2 separate regions of the Homo sapiens genome follow, and region 2 is linked to region 1. The links come from fine-mapping of genetic effects on gene expression. Tissue or cell type: whole blood. Region 1 holds a variant in brackets; the other region holds the start of a gene. All regions are shown on one strand. Distances are from middle to middle.

Evidence for each region. PIP is the estimated chance that this variant, and not a neighbour inherited with it, causes the effect.
Region 2: HMOX1 starts here. The variant in region 1 is fine-mapped to the expression of HMOX1 in whole blood (INTERVAL, PIP above 0.99).

What each region holds. Positions count from the first base shown.
Region 1 is chr22:35,474,316-35,482,418 of GRCh38, forward strand. No RefSeq gene overlaps it. Among named protein-coding and RNA genes, the nearest start is that of RASD2, 62 kb to the right of the region's middle. RefSeq lists a silencer at 4,610-4,787. The variant G/A (reference allele first, on the strand shown) is at 4,298.
Region 2 is chr22:35,376,612-35,384,714 of GRCh38, forward strand. HMOX1 (heme oxygenase 1) reads left to right here and starts at 4,485. Exons shown (of 5, transcript NM_002133.3): 1 at 4,485-4,585; 2 at 6,495-6,615. The coding sequence starts at 4,563. RefSeq lists enhancers at 1-1,125, 223-770, 732-971 and silencers at 4,206-4,285, 4,586-4,755.

The DNA.
Region 1 (8,103 bases):
GGGAAGAATCTTCCTTTCCACCGGGCCCAAGCCCTACTCTGGACTTTCCTTCTCTTTGAGGTTTTCAAGAACCAGAGTGTTAGGGGACTCTGCAAAGAGCACCGGGAAGACCACCCCTGCCTGCTCCTGGAGAACCTCCTCTGGCCCTGTGGCCGCCATCCAACCTGCAGCCCACCTCTGCCCTGAAGCACAGGGGAGTGAGGGAAGGCACGGGCTTGGGAATCAGGAAACTGGGTCTCCAGCCAGCTCTCCCTCCCTGGCTGGAGCGGCAGAGCTCAGCGGATGGGGCCGTGGGTTCTGGAGGTGGACAGTCTCACTTTTATTTATTATTATTATTATTATTATTATTTTTTTTTTTTTTTTTTTGAGACAGAGTCTCACTCTGTCTTCCAGACTGGAGTGTGGTGGCATGATCTTAGCTCACTGCAACCTCCGCCTCCTGGGTTCAAGCAATTCTCCTGCCTCAGCCTCCCGAGTAGCTGGGACTACAGGTGCATGCCACCATGCCTGGCTAATTTTTGTATTTTTAGTAGAGATGGGGTTTCACCATATTGGTCAGTCTGGTCTCGAACTCCTGATCTCAAGTGATCTGCCTCGGCTTCCCAGAGTGCTGGGATTACAGGCATGAGCCACTATGCCTGGCCGAGTCTCACTTTTAATCCCAGCTCTGCCCAAGTGGAACCCGGGAGTCCACTTGGGCTAGTGGACAAGTGTCAGGAAACGCTGCCCAGAGAGGACGTGGGCAGAGTCAAGAAGGGGGAGTTACAGTCATCTGAATAAAGACGGAGGGGAAAAGGGACAGTGCAAGGCTGGCAAGGTCAGTGGGAGGTGGGTGGATGGGGTGGCAGGAGCAGGTCCTGCCAGCCTGTGTGTCAGGACGTCTGACCTTGTCCCATGGGCAGTGGGAGTTACTACAAGGTTCTATGCAGGAGAGAGGCTGGTCAGATTTGTGTCTAATCCCCACAAACCCTGCCCTGTGAGCTTGAACAAGGGGTCTTCCTTTCTAGGTGGGAACTCCTCCTCTGCAGGATGAGGCACCCAGCCTTGGCAGTCCTTAGCTCCCATATAGTTCTGGTGCCGGATTAGGATGCAGAACAAGGCGTGGGCTCAGCAGAGCCACTTTGGGGGTAACTTTTGGGCATGGGAGGGCCCTGGGCCTCAAATTGCTCCCAGTGCAATTGGTCCCACAAGGCAAGATGTTTCCCTATAGATGCTTAGATGGCCTGGACCTCACCTTGACGTGCCTCCTTTGTTCCCAGCCACACTTTGGCCTCACTGGGCCTGTGTCGATCCTGTAGCCCCACGGCTCTTCTTGGGGAGGGAAGTCTTTGTGGGGTCCTTGTCGAGTGTGTGGGTCATAGGCCTGGGTGTGTGAAAGGGCTGCAAAGCATGAGGGAAGGGGGAGAAACCGCTGTGCAGGGGGCAAAACCACTGTGTAGAAGGCAAGGGGGAGAGTCCGGGCATAGCGCCAGGTGGGGAGGCACTGGGGGAGAAGACGGGGGAAAGGAAGCAGGAGCCGAGGGGAGACTGGGGGACTGGTGCGCTTTTTTTTTTTTTAACTTCATGAAAATATTTGTTTGACTAAAATTACCCTTTTTTTTTTTTTGCCCTTTCAGAAACTATGTTAGTAGTTCTGTGGACACACTTAATTGAAAATAAGAGGCCAGGTGCAGTGGCTCACGCCTGTAATCCCAGCACTTTGGGAGGCCAAGGCGGACGGGTCACCAGAGTTCAGGAGTTCGAGACCAGCCTGGCCAACATGGTGAAACCCCGTCTCTACAAAAAATACAAAAATTACCTGTGCGTAGTGGTGCATGTCTATAATCCCAGCTACTCAGGAGGTTCAGGCAGGAGAATCACTTGAACCCGGGAGGCAGAGGTTGGAGTGAGCCAAGATTGTGCGCCATTGTACTCCAGCCTGGGCAACAAGAGTGAAATTCCGTCTCAAAAAAAAAAAAAAGAAAAGAAAAGCTGTGTATACAACAAAAGGACGAAGAACACTGGTCAAGATGCACCATTAGCGTAGGGCGGGTAAGTTTAGACTAGAGAATGGGTCTAAGGAGCTTAACTTGACTATGAAGCATGATTTTGTCAACAGGGTGGAAAGCAACCGTGTATTTGGTTTTCCACTGGATCGCTGCTTCCGCCTCTGCAAACCACCAGGAAATAGGCTCTTCTAAGCCTCCTCAGATTTCAAAATGCACCGACCGTATCACATTATTGTTTCTTCAGAGCAAGAGTTGCTTCTTTGTCTCCCCTACTGTGCATTCCATAGGTGACTCAGAAAGACGCATTTTTAGTTTTTGTTGTTATTTGGAGTTTTATTATGGAAATTACCAAACATACCCAAAGGTAGCGAGAGCAGGATAATAAACCTCCGTGTGCCCATCATGAGTCCGATGATGATCGACTCAGGGGAGTTGGGTTTCATCTCTTCCCCCCTTCATTTCTATCCTAGGTATTATGTCGTTTCTCCCATACATCGGAAGGCATTTGAGCACAGAGATGCCTGTCCCCCCATTTTCGTCTCCTTGAAAACTTCACTTAAGGCTGCTGTGTTCATGAGGCTTTCTGTGGGTGGATGGAGGTCAACCTTGAAGAAGCAGCCGATTTCAGCTGGAGGTTGGTGCTGCCCTGGACATCAGGCCCCCAGAAGCAGGGGAGACCATGGGAACATGAAATGTTGGGGTGCTTTTGCAATTCCCGGAGCATGGAAGTGGGATTGGGCAGGAGGAGGGGCTACTGCACTGTGATGCTATTTAGCTGATGACCTTTAGAGTCACAAACCCCTGGACTGTCAGAGCTGGTGGCATCTTAGCTATCTCCAGTCTATCCCCTCACTGGACAGAGGAGGAAACTGAGGCCCAGAGAGTGGGGGCATCTTGCTCAAGGCCATGCATCAAATCAGTCAGAACCCAAGGACCTGGCTGTTTCCTGCCTGGTGTCCAACCAGCGTTTTAGAGCCCCCGCTGCAGTCAATCGCTATCAGGCACCCTGTGTCCTTCCCAGAGCATTGCTGAATACCTGGAAGGAGGCAGAGAACACCAGCCCAAGGAAGGAATACACTGGGATCTTGAGGAAGGCAGGAGCTTCCTTGGTGCAGTGTCCCCAGCTGCCTATCTGCCTGGGAGTGGCCTGGGCACCCAGGACCTCCTCTCCAACTCCAGGCATCCCATGGAGCACTTGGCAGCCCAGCTGAGGGATACTCCAGGAGGATCTTCCCTTGGCAGGTAGATCCATGTCAAACGGATCCCTCATCCAAAGCCAGCGCTGGCTTCACGTGCTGTTTTGTCTTCTCTTCCTCTCACACGAACATACGCTGTGTTGTTCTTTCCTGAACTTCTCCCTCCTCTCTCCCTCTTTTTTTTTTTTTTTTTTTGAGATGGAGTCTCACTCTGTCACCCAGGCTGGAGTGCAGTGACGCGATCTTGGCTCACCGCAACCTCCGCCTCCTGGGTTCAAGTGATTCTCCTGCCTCAGCCTCCCGAGTAGCTGGGATTACAGGCACCCACCACCAAGCCAGCCAATTTCTGTATTTTTAGTAGAGACGGGGTTTCACCACATTGGTCAGGCTGGTCTCGAACTCCTGACCTCAGGTGATCCACCCGCCTCAGCTTCCCAAAGTGCTGGGATTACAGGTGTTAGCCACTGCACACAGCCACTCTCTTCCTCCTTTTATCAGCCCATACTCATCTTCCCCCAGCTGCCCCGCCCCTGCTCCCCCCACCTCTCTTTCTCTCCCCACTTCCCTCCTTCTCCTCTCATAAATTCTCCCTCTGGGCTTTTTGCCAAGGGGCTGAATAAACAGGAAGGAAGGGGCAAATAAATCACCAAGACAGGCTCTGGGAAGGTTTCTGACTCTGGAGACCGTCACAGAAGAGCTGGCCGGCCTCCGCCTTGGGAGTTGCAGCGAGGCTGTGTAGAAGGGGTTATAGGAGCAGTGATATGGGGTCAGCAGCAGGCTGGTGCCCAGGCAGGCTTTCATCAACGCTGCGACCTTCAGAGTGAGGCTGAGGAGAAGCCCAGGTGGGGAGTCTAGAGCCCTGGCCACCAGTTGGGTTCTGCTGTGTGACTCTGGACAAATCTCACCCCCTCTCTGAGCCTCCATCTCCCCATTTGTAACAGGAGGGACCCGGATTAGATGGCTGGGAGTGGTCCTTGCGGCCCTGATGTTGTCGGAGTCTGAGGATTGATCTTTTATACAACTTGGAGGGCTCTGGAGGGAGGGTCTTGCTGAGCTGCTCTGATAGTGGGGATCATGCAGACCCCCGGCTTTCCCACTCTAGACGGCCTTGGC[G/A]AGAGCCCCCAGCTGCCCTTGAGTTGGGACATCCTGGGGGTGAATGAGGGTAGAAAAAGGCAGCTGCAGTTGGAGGCTTGCGGCTCAGAGCTAAGGCCTCCACCCCACAGCCTCCGCTGGCTCCCCAGGTGAGCTGGGACACCAAGATCAGAGGCTGGAAACAAGAAGTTTTGGCTTTTAGCTGGCAGCAGCAGCAGCTGCCAACATCATCTCTCCTTCAAATGACAGGCTGGGGACTTTGGGAAAACAGCCACAATAAGCGTGTTCGGAGGGAAAGGAGGGGGAGAGGAAGGAAAGAGAGCAGAGAAGATGGTGAGGTCTGGATCGTGGGGTGCAGCGTGTGTGCGCACATGTGCTTCTGTGATCCTCAGTATGTCAGTGTTTCTGTGACTGTGTGTACACTTACGCTGTGTCTCTGTGATTCAATCTCTGTGTGTCCCCAGGGAGACAGTGTGCGTCTCTGTTTTTGTTTGTTTGTTTTTTTTTTTTTTTTTGAGACGGAGTCTTGCTCTGTCACCCCGGCTGGAGTGCAGTGGTGCGATCTCGGCTCACTGCAACCTCCGCCTCCCGGGTTCAAGCAATTCTCCTGCCTCAGCCTCCTGAGTAGCTGGGATTACAGGTGCATGCTACCACGCCCTGGCTAGTTTTTGTATTTTTTAGTAGAGACGGGGTTTCGCCATGTTGGCCAGGCTAGTCTCGAACTCCTGACCTCAGGTGATCTGCCTTCCTTGGCCTCCCAAAGTATGGGGATTACAGGCGTGGGCCACGGCGCCTGGCCTAGTGTGAGTCTCTGTTTATGGTGATGGGTGGCAGCGCAATGCCTTGAAAATGTTTCCTCCAAGGTAGCAAAGAAAAGTCCCTGTGACCATCCAAAGCCTTGGTGAGCTCAGCGGCTGAGCACTGGTCTGGAAGTTAGGAGACGTGGGTTCCAGCTTTGGATCTGCTACAGGCTCACTTGGCAGCCTTGGGCGAGCCACTACCTTTCCTTGACTTGAGGAGCCTCAATGGCAAATAGCAACACAGCCAACTCTTTTTTTTTTTTTTTCCTAGAGAAAAAAAAGCTGTATGCTTTATTAAGCAGAGTGACAGTATAAAGCTTCCACAGCGTGGAAGGAGTCCCAAGCGGGTAGCCAGTGTTAGATTTTTTGATCACCTTTTAAACTCTTTAAGGCGGGAAATATGTGCGGCGGGAAGATGTTACCAGAGCGAGAAACAAAGACAATTAACATGTCTCAGATCTTGAAGAAAACCGGAATTGTAACTTAAGTTTTATCTGCGTATAACCTTGCAGCGGCATGGCAAAGGAGACAGGATCTCACAGAATTTTACAAATTGGCAACACAGTCAACTCTTTTAGAGCATTTGCTATGTGCCAGGCCCTGTCCTAAGCACATCACAGGTCAGGGTTATCCAACCCTGGAAGGTTATCTCCATTTTACAGATGTGGAAACTGAGGCCCGTGCCTAAGATGCCGTATCTAGTGAGTGGGGGGACTGAGATTCCAGTCCAGGCAGTTTGGCTTGGAGTTTGAGCTCTTCACCACACGCTGCCCAGCGATCCTGCCGGAGGGTCTTGACCACAGAGTGGGGGTGTGGGGGCTGTGATTCAGATTCTCCGAGGTGCTGATGCAGCTCTGTGGCGCCTACTGCCCCCGCCCCCCGACTGAGAACTGTGGCTGTGCTCAGCCACCGTGACTGGCTGGGGTATGGCTCGGATCCCTTGGGTGTTGGCCAGGCCCCAGTTGATCTCCAAGGGCTCTCGGTGTTCCAGGAAGCTATGGCTTGGTGTCTGAAACACAGTCTGGAGTAATAAATGTCGGGAGGAAGGATGTGACTAGGCTGCACAGGGAAGAGACCAAGACACTTTGAGCCAAATCTCTCTTTCTCTTGGGACCCCAAGAGCTGATTCACCTGGAACATCCTGGAGCCATGACACAAGCCATGCTCTGATGGCAGAGGCTGCCAGCTGCCACCCAGGACAGAGAGCTTATGGGAGGTGGTGGAGTTCCTGCTCCCCGCAAAGCCTGAGGGCTGGTAGAGATGTGAGGGTGTTTCAACGTTGCTTTCCAAGATAAGGAATGAGTTCTTTTTCTGTCCTTCTTCTTCTGTCCCTGGACAGCCTGACTGCGTCAAAGAAGGAGGTGGGGGAGCCAGGGGGCAGCTGGGGTAGGAAGAAGTCCAGCTTGGTGACATTAATGGGAGGACAGAATTGCCTGGCTCTTCTGTTTTTGGACACGGGCACAGTTATGAAACTTTGAGCAACCCCAGGCCTGGGGCTGGTTCCTGGTGGCCCTGGCCCACCCCTGCCTGCTGTGTGAGGCCTGTGAGGTGCATGAGGCCACTGTCCATAAATGGAATTGTCAGTTTATTACCCTCGGTACCCAGCCCAGTGCCTGGAAGTTCTTCCCGGATGTCGACTGCCGTGGGGAGAAGAGGGGCCCACTGGCCACAGTGAGGGTGCTGAGCTGGAGACGAGTTACACCCGATCTCATCCTGGGAGGAGACTGTGGTCTGGAGGGGGTGAGAGCAAAAATGCAGAGGCTTAAAACAGAGGTGAGGGCAGAGGGAGGCAGGAGAGACCGGGAAGGATTCAGGAAGCCTGTTTCCCACGTGGGAGGCGGAGGGATTTTCTTAAAACAGAAATCAGACCGTGCCACTTCCTGGTGGCGTTGCCCTAAAATAGATTCCATACTCTGTCCTGCTGTGCCATCTGGCTCTGCTTTCTCTCCACCTCCTCTAATGTTATCGTCTCCTCCCTGCTGTCCACTGTCCCGCCACACGGGTTTCTTCCAGTTCCTCGAACACACTAAGCCATGTCCACCCTTGGGGCTTGGCCCAACTCATTCCTACTTCCTGGACATCGCCCCGCCCTGCACTTTGCACTCATTCAGGTGCCTGCTTAAATGTTACCTCCTCAGAGAGGGCTTCCTACCGTATTTTGTCTCTCTCCCACTAGATTATCACCTAAAACCGAGCAGGGGCCATATAGGTCTTCTATAAATATCTCTTGTTAGTCAGCAAACATTTATTGAATGACTGTATGAAGGAGAAAATGGCTTACCTGGCTTTGGAAGCTTGGGGTTGCTCTACCTAAAGGAGTCATTCTCTATTTCAGCACCCCCTCATTTATTTAATTTAATTTATTTATTTAAGTCAGAGCCTTGCTCTGTCGCCCAGGCTGGAGTACAGTGGAGCGATCTCAGCTCACTGCAACCTCTGCCTCCCAGGTTCAAGCGATTCTCCTGCCTCAGCCTCCTGAGTAGCTGGGATTACACATGCGCACCACCACAAGTGGCTAATTTTGTACTTTTAGTAGACGGGGTTTCACCGTGTTGGCCAGGCTGGTCTCGAACTCCTGACTTCAGGTGATCTGCCCACCTGGGCCCCCCAAAGTGCTGGGATTGTAGGCATGAGCCGCTGCGCCCAGCCAGCACCCCACTGTTTAATGTATATGTATGAAGCTCATCGCAATTTGTAATCAATTTATTTATTGTTTTTGTCTCTCTCCCACTAGACTGTCACCTAAAACCGAGCAGAGGCCATATGCGTGCTCTATAAATATTTGTTGTTAGTCAGCAAACATTTATTGAATGACTGTATGAAGGAGATAATGGTTTTACCTGGCTTTGGAAGGCTGAGTAGGAACAGGGAAAGCAAAGAAGGATGTGCTTAGCTGTAATATCCGAAAACTCAACTATCAGTAGCTTAACTTCTAAGGATATCTATTGTTGACTTGGGAAGATGTCCGGATCTAGATTGTCCTCATGTTGATTCTGCAGCTTAACAGTGTCATTGGCCTCCCTGCTG
Region 2 (8,103 bases), 98 kb before region 1:
TGCTAGGATTACAGGCGTGAGCCACCACAATTGGCCCAGTCTATGGATTTTTAAAAAATAACTTGGGCTTGTCTTCCTTGCTGAAGAAGGCTGTTTTCCAGCCTGTCACACAGCAGTTAGGCTGTAGACCCTCACTGGAGCCCCTGCCCTGCAGAATCGAGCACATGTTCTTTCTGGGTCTGTGTGGGGTGTGGGTGTGGTCAGGACACCGTCTGTGACCTTATTTACTGGGGACGTCCCCTGCTTGAGGAGAATATCCAGGCAAGGTCTCCTCACTCTCCTTAGCCACCATCCAGCTTGGCCAAGAGGCCTCCCCATGATTCCTCCCACGCCAGGGCCTCGCCTTTGTTTTTCACTGTTAGGGGCTGGCGAGTCACTGACCCGCCCCCCTCCCTGCTGCCCAAACCACTTCTGTTTCCTGAAGGCGCCTTGGGAATGCTGAGTCGCGATTTCCTCATCCCCTCGTGCAGCTGCATTTCTGCTGCGTCATGTTTGGGAGGGGGGACTCGCGGAAACAAAGGGAAGGCGGATTTTGCTAGATTTTGCTGAGTCACCAGTGCCTCCTCAGCTTCTCTTTAGGTGGGAGGTGAAAGGGCAGCTTTAATGGTAGGCAGGAGGAAGTGAAACTTCTAGAAAACGGCAGAAGCCTCTTGTTTGTCTTTTCTAAGTCTGTGCCTTTCCCCTGCTGGGTCCCCCAGCTCCCACCCTGTGAAGTCCACCTCAATCTGCCCCTGATTTAATGTTGCAATCCACCGAGGCCTTCTTATGCTTCACATCTCTCTGACTTCTGCATCTGCCTCATCTCTTCTGCCTCCAGCAGGAGAAAGTTCTCTACTTTTTTTGCCTGGATAATTATTGTATTTTTAGTAGAGATGGGGGTTTCACCATGTTGGTCAGGCTGGTCTTGAACTCCTGACCTCAGGTGATCAGCCCACCTCAGCCTCCCAAAGTGCTGGGATTATAGGTATGAGCCACCGTGCCCAGCCTCATCCTCCATCTTCAAAGCTAGCAGCATGGCATCTCCCAGTCTCTCTCTCTGTCCTCTGCTTTCTTTGTCACCTTCTGTATGTGCAACCATCCAGCCTCCCTCTTATAAGGCCCAAGAGGATAATCCAAGATAATTCCCCATCTCAACATCCTTGACTTAATCACTTCTGCAAGATCCTTTTGCTATGTAAGGTAGCAAAAAGGTAACCTATTCACAGGTTCTGGTGATTAGAATGTGGACACCTTTAAGGGGCTTTTATTTGGCCCAGCAGGAGGAGAGAGAATAGCATTTGGATCATCCTGTTGCTTGACTAAAAAGAAGGGGAAGTCAGGAGGCTGAATCAGCATGCGAAAGGGCCACAAATTCAGCCCTGGGACAGCCTAGAGGACCAGAACAACTCTGGCCTGGCCTCTTGCACCCCAGCAACCCACTGTGTGGGGGGCTGTTCTAACGAAGTCTGGGGCTCCCAGAGAACAGTTAGAAAAGAAAGCAAGCCCAGACCGGCAGCCAGGAACCCTGGGTCACTGGAGGTTCTCTTTCCAATGGGGGGCATAGCCTGGCCAAGTCCCTCCTGCTCTTGGGGTCCCTGCTTCCCTGTGTTAAATAAAAAGGGTTCAGATCTCATGAGTTTTACCCTCTAGGGTCGCTGAATGGACAGACTCTGGATCTATACACGCAAACTCATCTCCCCTAAACTCCTGGACCCTCTGTGAGAAGGGTTGGAGTGTGGTGGTCAGGACTGTGGGGACTGGCTTCAAAGTGCTGTAGTTTGAATCCTGGCTCTTCCATCATTAACTGTATGACTTGGGAAAATGACTTATCCTCTTTGTCCCTCAGTGCTCATGTGGGCAAAATAGAGATGAAAATAGCTTGCAAGGCTGTTGTCAGGATGGGCTGCAATCACGCGCGTGAAGTCTCTGCACATAGTAAATTCTCAATAAAGGCTGGTTAGAATGACAGTTTGGAATTGTGGCTTGGTTCCAGCCCATTCTATCAGCCCAGCAATATTACAGCCTAACAATATTATTATTTTTTCCCAGAAAGAGACCTTGAAGCATCTATTCATTCAGGCATGCATTCAGTATTAACTGTGACCTACCAGGCACTATTCCAGGAACTGGGAATTTACAAAGCAAAGTAGTAGGCAAGGTCTCCACCTTTGTGCTTTACATGCCACTGTTGGGGCTCAGAAAGTGATACCAGGACAACTGGTGCTTTGACATGATGAGAGGCCTTAGGAGCTGCCTCAGAGTCAAGGTCCCTGTAAGCTTGTCTTGTTCCCCCGACAAGCACAGGGAGAGACGCTCTCTGGAATTTCCTTATCTGACCAAGAACACTTCTTTACAAAAGAAATGCAATTGTGTTAAGTCTTTTTTTCCTTTGAGACAGAGTCTCGCTCTTGTCACCCAGGCTGGAGTGCAGTGGCACTATCTTGGCTCACTGCAACCTCCTCCTCCTCCCGGGTTCAAGCGATTCTCCTGCCTCAGCCTCCCAAAGTGCTGGGATTACAGGTGTGAGCCACCGCGCCCGGCCAGTGTTAAGCCCTTTTTCTAGTAATCTCATCAAATATCCAGGAAAGATCAACCACTGGAGAGAGAAAGAGACTGGGAGTCATCACCAGACCCAGACAGATTTACCTGTTCTTCTGAGGACAGTGCCAAGAGATTACCTGGGGGACTTTATCTGCCTAGGACAACCTTTGTCCCTGTGCGGCTCCACCTCCACCTTCCCTTAAAGTCGGCCTTTCACCTCCAGGGCCATTCCTTCTTGCTAATGATTTACTGTCTTTCAAAAGAATTGTCTGCATTCCCTATCTCCCTTCTCCCCTATAAAAAAGGCTGGGTAGCCTCTGTACTCCACTGGGTTACAGGGTCACCATTCTTCCGTGATTACCCCATTACAATACATTTTTGTATGTCTTTTCTCCTCTTAACCTGACTTTTGTCGGTTGGTTTTCGGGGAACCTTCAGAGGAAGAAGGGGAATTTTTTTCAAGGCCCCTTAGCTCACCCTTGGGAGGATGATCCTTTCCAATACAATCTCAGAAGTGCCTCTGGGCTGTAGTGGCCCTAGGCTGAATTCCAGGAAGTTTTTTTTTTTTTTTTTTGTTTTTTTTTTTTTTTGAGGGACAGCGTCTTGTTCTGTTGCCCAGGTTAGAATACAGTAGCGTGGTCACAGCTCACTCCAGCCTCTACATCCCAGGCTCAAGTGAACCTCCAGCCTCAGCCTCCCAAGTAGCTGGGACCACAGGCATGTGCCACCATGCCCAGCTAATTTATTTTATATTTTGTAGAGACAGGGTCTCCCTATGTTGCCCAGGCCAGTCTCGAACTCAAAGCAATCTTCCCACCTCGACTGGGCTCAAAGCGCTCTTCCCACCTCAACCTCCCAAAGTACTGGGACTACAGGTGTGAGCTACCATGCCAGGCCTGAAAGCCATCTTAAAAAAAAAATCTTAGAATGAGAATCACAGTATTGGGAAAGGACTGTATGAATCATCTGGTCCATTCGTTTTGTCCTCTGGGTTCACCCAGTGACCCTATTTCCCCCGAGTTCTAAGGAGTCCACCTCATGCAGAATTGATTCAATAGGCGATCAGCAAGGGCCAGCTCTGCTCTGGGCCCTGAGCAGGCACTGAGTATAAGTCAGACCTGAATGTGCCTGGAAGAGTGTCCCACGCATTCCAGCAGGGAAGCAGTTTGTATGACAGGTGTCCCAGTCCAGGCGGATACCAGGTGCTGCCAGAGTGTGGAGGAGGCAGGCGGGGACTTAGTCTCCTCCCTGGGTTTGGACACTGGCATCCTGCTTTATGTGTGACACCACTGCACCCCTCTGAGCCTCGGTTTCCCCATCTGTAAAATAGAAGCGATCTACCCTCACAGGTCAGTTGTAGGGATGAACCATGAAAATACTAGAGTCTCTGTTTTTTGACAGGAACTCAAAAAACAGATCCTAAATGTACATTTAAAGAGGGTGTGAGGAGGCAAGCAGTCAGCAGAGGATTCCAGCAGGTGACATTTTAGGGAGCTGGAGACAGCAGAGCCTGGGGTTGCTAAGTTCCTGATGTTGCCCACCAGGCTATTGCTCTGAGCAGCGCTGCCTCCCAGCTTTCTGGAACCTTCTGGGACGCCTGGGGTGCATCAAGTCCCAAGGGGACAGGGAGCAGAAGGGGGGGCTCTGGAAGGAGCAAAATCACACCCAGAGCCTGCAGCTTCTCAGATTTCCTTAAAGGTTTTGTGTGTGTGTGTGTGTGTGTGTGTGTGTGTATGTGTGTGTGTGTGTGTGTGTGTGTGTGTTTTCTCTAAAAGTCCTATGGCCAGACTTTGTTTCCCAAGGGTCATATGACTGCTCCTCTCCACCCCACACTGGCCCGGGGCGGGCTGGGCGCGGGCCCCTGCGGGTGTTGCAACGCCCGGCCAGAAAGTGGGCATCAGCTGTTCCGCCTGGCCCACGTGACCCGCCGAGCATAAATGTGACCGGCCGCGGCTCCGGCAGTCAACGCCTGCCTCCTCTCGAGCGTCCTCAGCGCAGCCGCCGCCCGCGGAGCCAGCACGAACGAGCCCAGCACCGGCCGGATGGAGCGTCCGCAACCCGACAGGCAAGCGCGGGGCGCGGGACGCGGGACGGGCGCCTTTCTCTCCCAACCCTGCTTGCGTCCTAGCCCCACCCCGGGACACTGCCACACAGCGACAGAGCCCAGGAGCCAGAAACTTGGGCTCTGGAGTCAGGAGGTGCGGGGTTCTGATCCTGCCTGTGCCCGTAGGGTAGTTGGAGGGAGGAACGGTAATTTACATGCCTGGCACCCTGGTATGCGGTTGGTGACCAAGATGGGAGTGTCCCTAGAGTATCCAGTCTTTGAGGTAGCCAATTTTTTTTTTAATCCTACTTTCGAGGTGTGTTTGGAGTTGCTCTCTGCTGAATCTAGATCTCTGGGGCTCTGCCAGCCTGGGGGAGCATGCTTGGTTCTCTTGGTGGCATCTGTCCCTCACTAGCTACGGAGGACCTGAGCCAGACATCACCCTGGCTGCGGTGTTCCATGTCTCACAGATAGCCCAGTTCAGGGAGGCGACATGCCCAAGAGTGCTCAGTTAGCTGGTGTCAGAACTGGGCCTTGAACCTTGGTCTGCCCACCTCCAGGTCTCACTCATTCCCTTCTTTCAATAATTTGTTAGTATTTTTTTTTTTAACTCCTGGGCTTAAGCATCCTCCCACCTCAGCCTCCAGAGTAGCTGGGACTTACAGACATGTGCCATTTCTCCTGAGACTTTGACCAGCTGTGTTGTAGAACAGGGAAGCAGGGCAGGAGAAAAGGGAAAAATGACAATTCTGTGGGGAGGCAGGGATACGGACCCATGACAGAAATACTCCCAGAAAGACTTTTTCTTTGACTAAAGCAGACTTTCTCAGGCTTTTTAACCCTGACGCCTTCATGATGAGCATAACATGATAGGGGGTCATGAGATTTGCATCTGGAACTTTAACAAAATAACTGAATTAAATATTGGGTCTAAAAGCCAATCAAAGCAATTACAAACTTGGAGATGCCGGTTCATGGGGCTGCTGCTTCTTCCTGGGTTATGCTGTACCTCCTCCTCCTCTCCACTGCGAACTACCTGTACCAGGATTTCCCCCTTGGTTTGGGGGACTGTATTATTTAGTGTTTTAATGACTGAAGAGTGTTTACAAAGCTGCGAGAGCCACCATGCCCAGCCTGAATTTGTTTTTTGTTTTTTGTTTTTTTGTTTTTTTGCTTTTTTGCTTTTCTTTTTTTGAGATGGAGTGTTGCTCTGTTGCCCAGGCTGGAGTGCAGTGGCGCGATCTCGGCTCACTGCAACCTCTGCCTCCTGGGTTCAAGCGATTCTCCTGCCTCAGCCTCCCAAGTAGTTGGGATTACAGGCGCCCACTACCATGCCCGGCTATTTTTTTTTTTTTTTTTGTATTTTTAGTAGAGATAGGGTTTCACCATGTTGGCCAGGCTGGGCTCAAACTCCTGGCCTCAGGTGATCTGCCCGCCTCAGCCTCCCAAAGTGCTAGGATTACAGGCGTGAGCCACCATGCCTGGCCCTTTTTTTCTTTTTTTTTCTTTTTTTGAGATGGAGTCTCTCTGTCACCAAGTCTGGAGTGCAGTGGTGTGATCTCAGCTCACTGCAACCTCTGCCTCCGGGATTCAAGCAATTACAGGCATAATTGCTGGGATTACAGGCACCTGCCACCATGCCCGGCTAATTTTTGTATTTTTAGTAGAGACGGGGTTTCACCATGTTTGCCAGGCTGGTCTCGAACTCCTGACCTCAGGTGATCCACCTGCCTTGGCCTCCCAAAGCGCTGGGATTACAGGCGTGAGCCACCGTGCCCAGCCACAAGGCTGCATCTTAAAGCGATTGAGAACGTGGCCTGAATGAGGATGGGAGTCTCTTGAAGGCCTGCCCACAGGTGGGAGGCTCAGCAGTTGGGAAGGACCCCACCCCCAGCCAGCTTTGTGTTCACCTTTCCCATTTCCTCCTCAGCATGCCCCAGGATTTGTCAGAGGCCCTGAAGGAGGCCACCAAGGAGGTGCACACCCAGGCAGAGAATGCTGAGTTCATGAGGAACTTTCAGAAGGGCCAGGTGACCCGAGACGGCTTCAAGGTATGTGGCTTGGTGGGACTAGCCCTGGTGGAGGGTGTGGCAGGTGTGGGTGGACCCAAGGCTCAGACCAGTGGTTTAAGTGGGGATGCTGAGGGACCAGATGGGCATGTCCAATAGAATCATCTTAAAAATGATGACACTGAGGCTCAGAGAGGGAAGGTGAGTTACCCAAGGTCACACAGCAAGTTCAGCCTGCTCTGTAATGTTGTGGAGGGGCTGGGGCAGCAGTGCCGTTGACTGAGCACCGGTTCCATGTTGGGCATTTTGTACACGTGGTTTCTAATCTGTGCTTCAACCCTGACGAGAAAGATGAGGACTGGAAGGCTCAGAGAGGTTCAGTGACTAACAGAAGGTCACACAGCCAGTAAGTGGAAAAGGCTGAAATCAACCAAGACCGATTTCAGCCTTGTACTCCTTGTATTTCAGAGCTTGTACTCCTGATCTAACTCGAATTTGCCTCTGAAGATAAGGAATAATATAGGTTGGAGTCTTAACAGAACCCTTTTCTAACAGTGAGACTGAGGGTGCCTCATCTAATCTCCCTAAGCCACGTTTTCCCCATCTGTAAAAGAGTATTTCAACAGCAGGGTTTTCTTAAGCACCCACTATATGCCAGGTACTGATTTTGCTGTTTCCCAGCACTGTTGTGAAATTCATGCAAATAGAAGGAAAGCACTTGATGAAGAACCGGGAAGATACTGGGTGTTAAAACATCAGCGTGGGGAAGAGCTTGTTCAGGTTGAACAGAGGGTGTGGGGGTGGGGAGTAGGGAGCTATATCCCACCACCTTCATCCCAGTCCCTTTTGCAATCTGCACCCTCTGCCACCCCCTACTTCCAACATGAGACATGCTTTATTTATTTTATTTTATCTGAGACAGAGTCTCACTCTGTTGTCCGGGCTGGAGTGCAATGGCAAGATCTCGGTGCCCTGAAACCTCCGCATCCTAAGTTCAAGCGATTCTCCTGCCTCAGCCTCCCAAGTAGCTGGGACTACAGGTGCCCACCACCACACCTGGCCAATTTTTGTATTTTTTTAGTAGAGACAGGGTTTTACCATGTTGGCCAGGCTGGTCTCGAACTCCTGACCTCAGATGATCCACCCGTCTTGGTCTCCCAAAGTGCTGGGATTAGAGGTGTGAGCCACCACCCGGCCGAGACATGCTTTAATGAGGAGAGATTTAATCTGTGGTTCCAGGCTGGGTGGGGTCCTTGGGCCTGTAATGGGTCTTCCTCATCCTCCTCCCCTCTCCCTTAAAAAGATGAGGTACACCCAGTTGCTGCAGTGTGACTGGAGACAGTGGGTGCAGGGAGGTGAATGCTGGAATATCCCATCCCCAGCCAGCTTAGACTTTGGATTTTGCCTCTAAGTCACAGGGTTCTAAGGAGGCGCCAAGATCCATGAGAGAATCCAGTGCTCACTTACATTAAGCTGGTGGACGTGGCACTTATCACAGCCCTTCTCATGTGAGCGCTAAGTGCCAGGCTG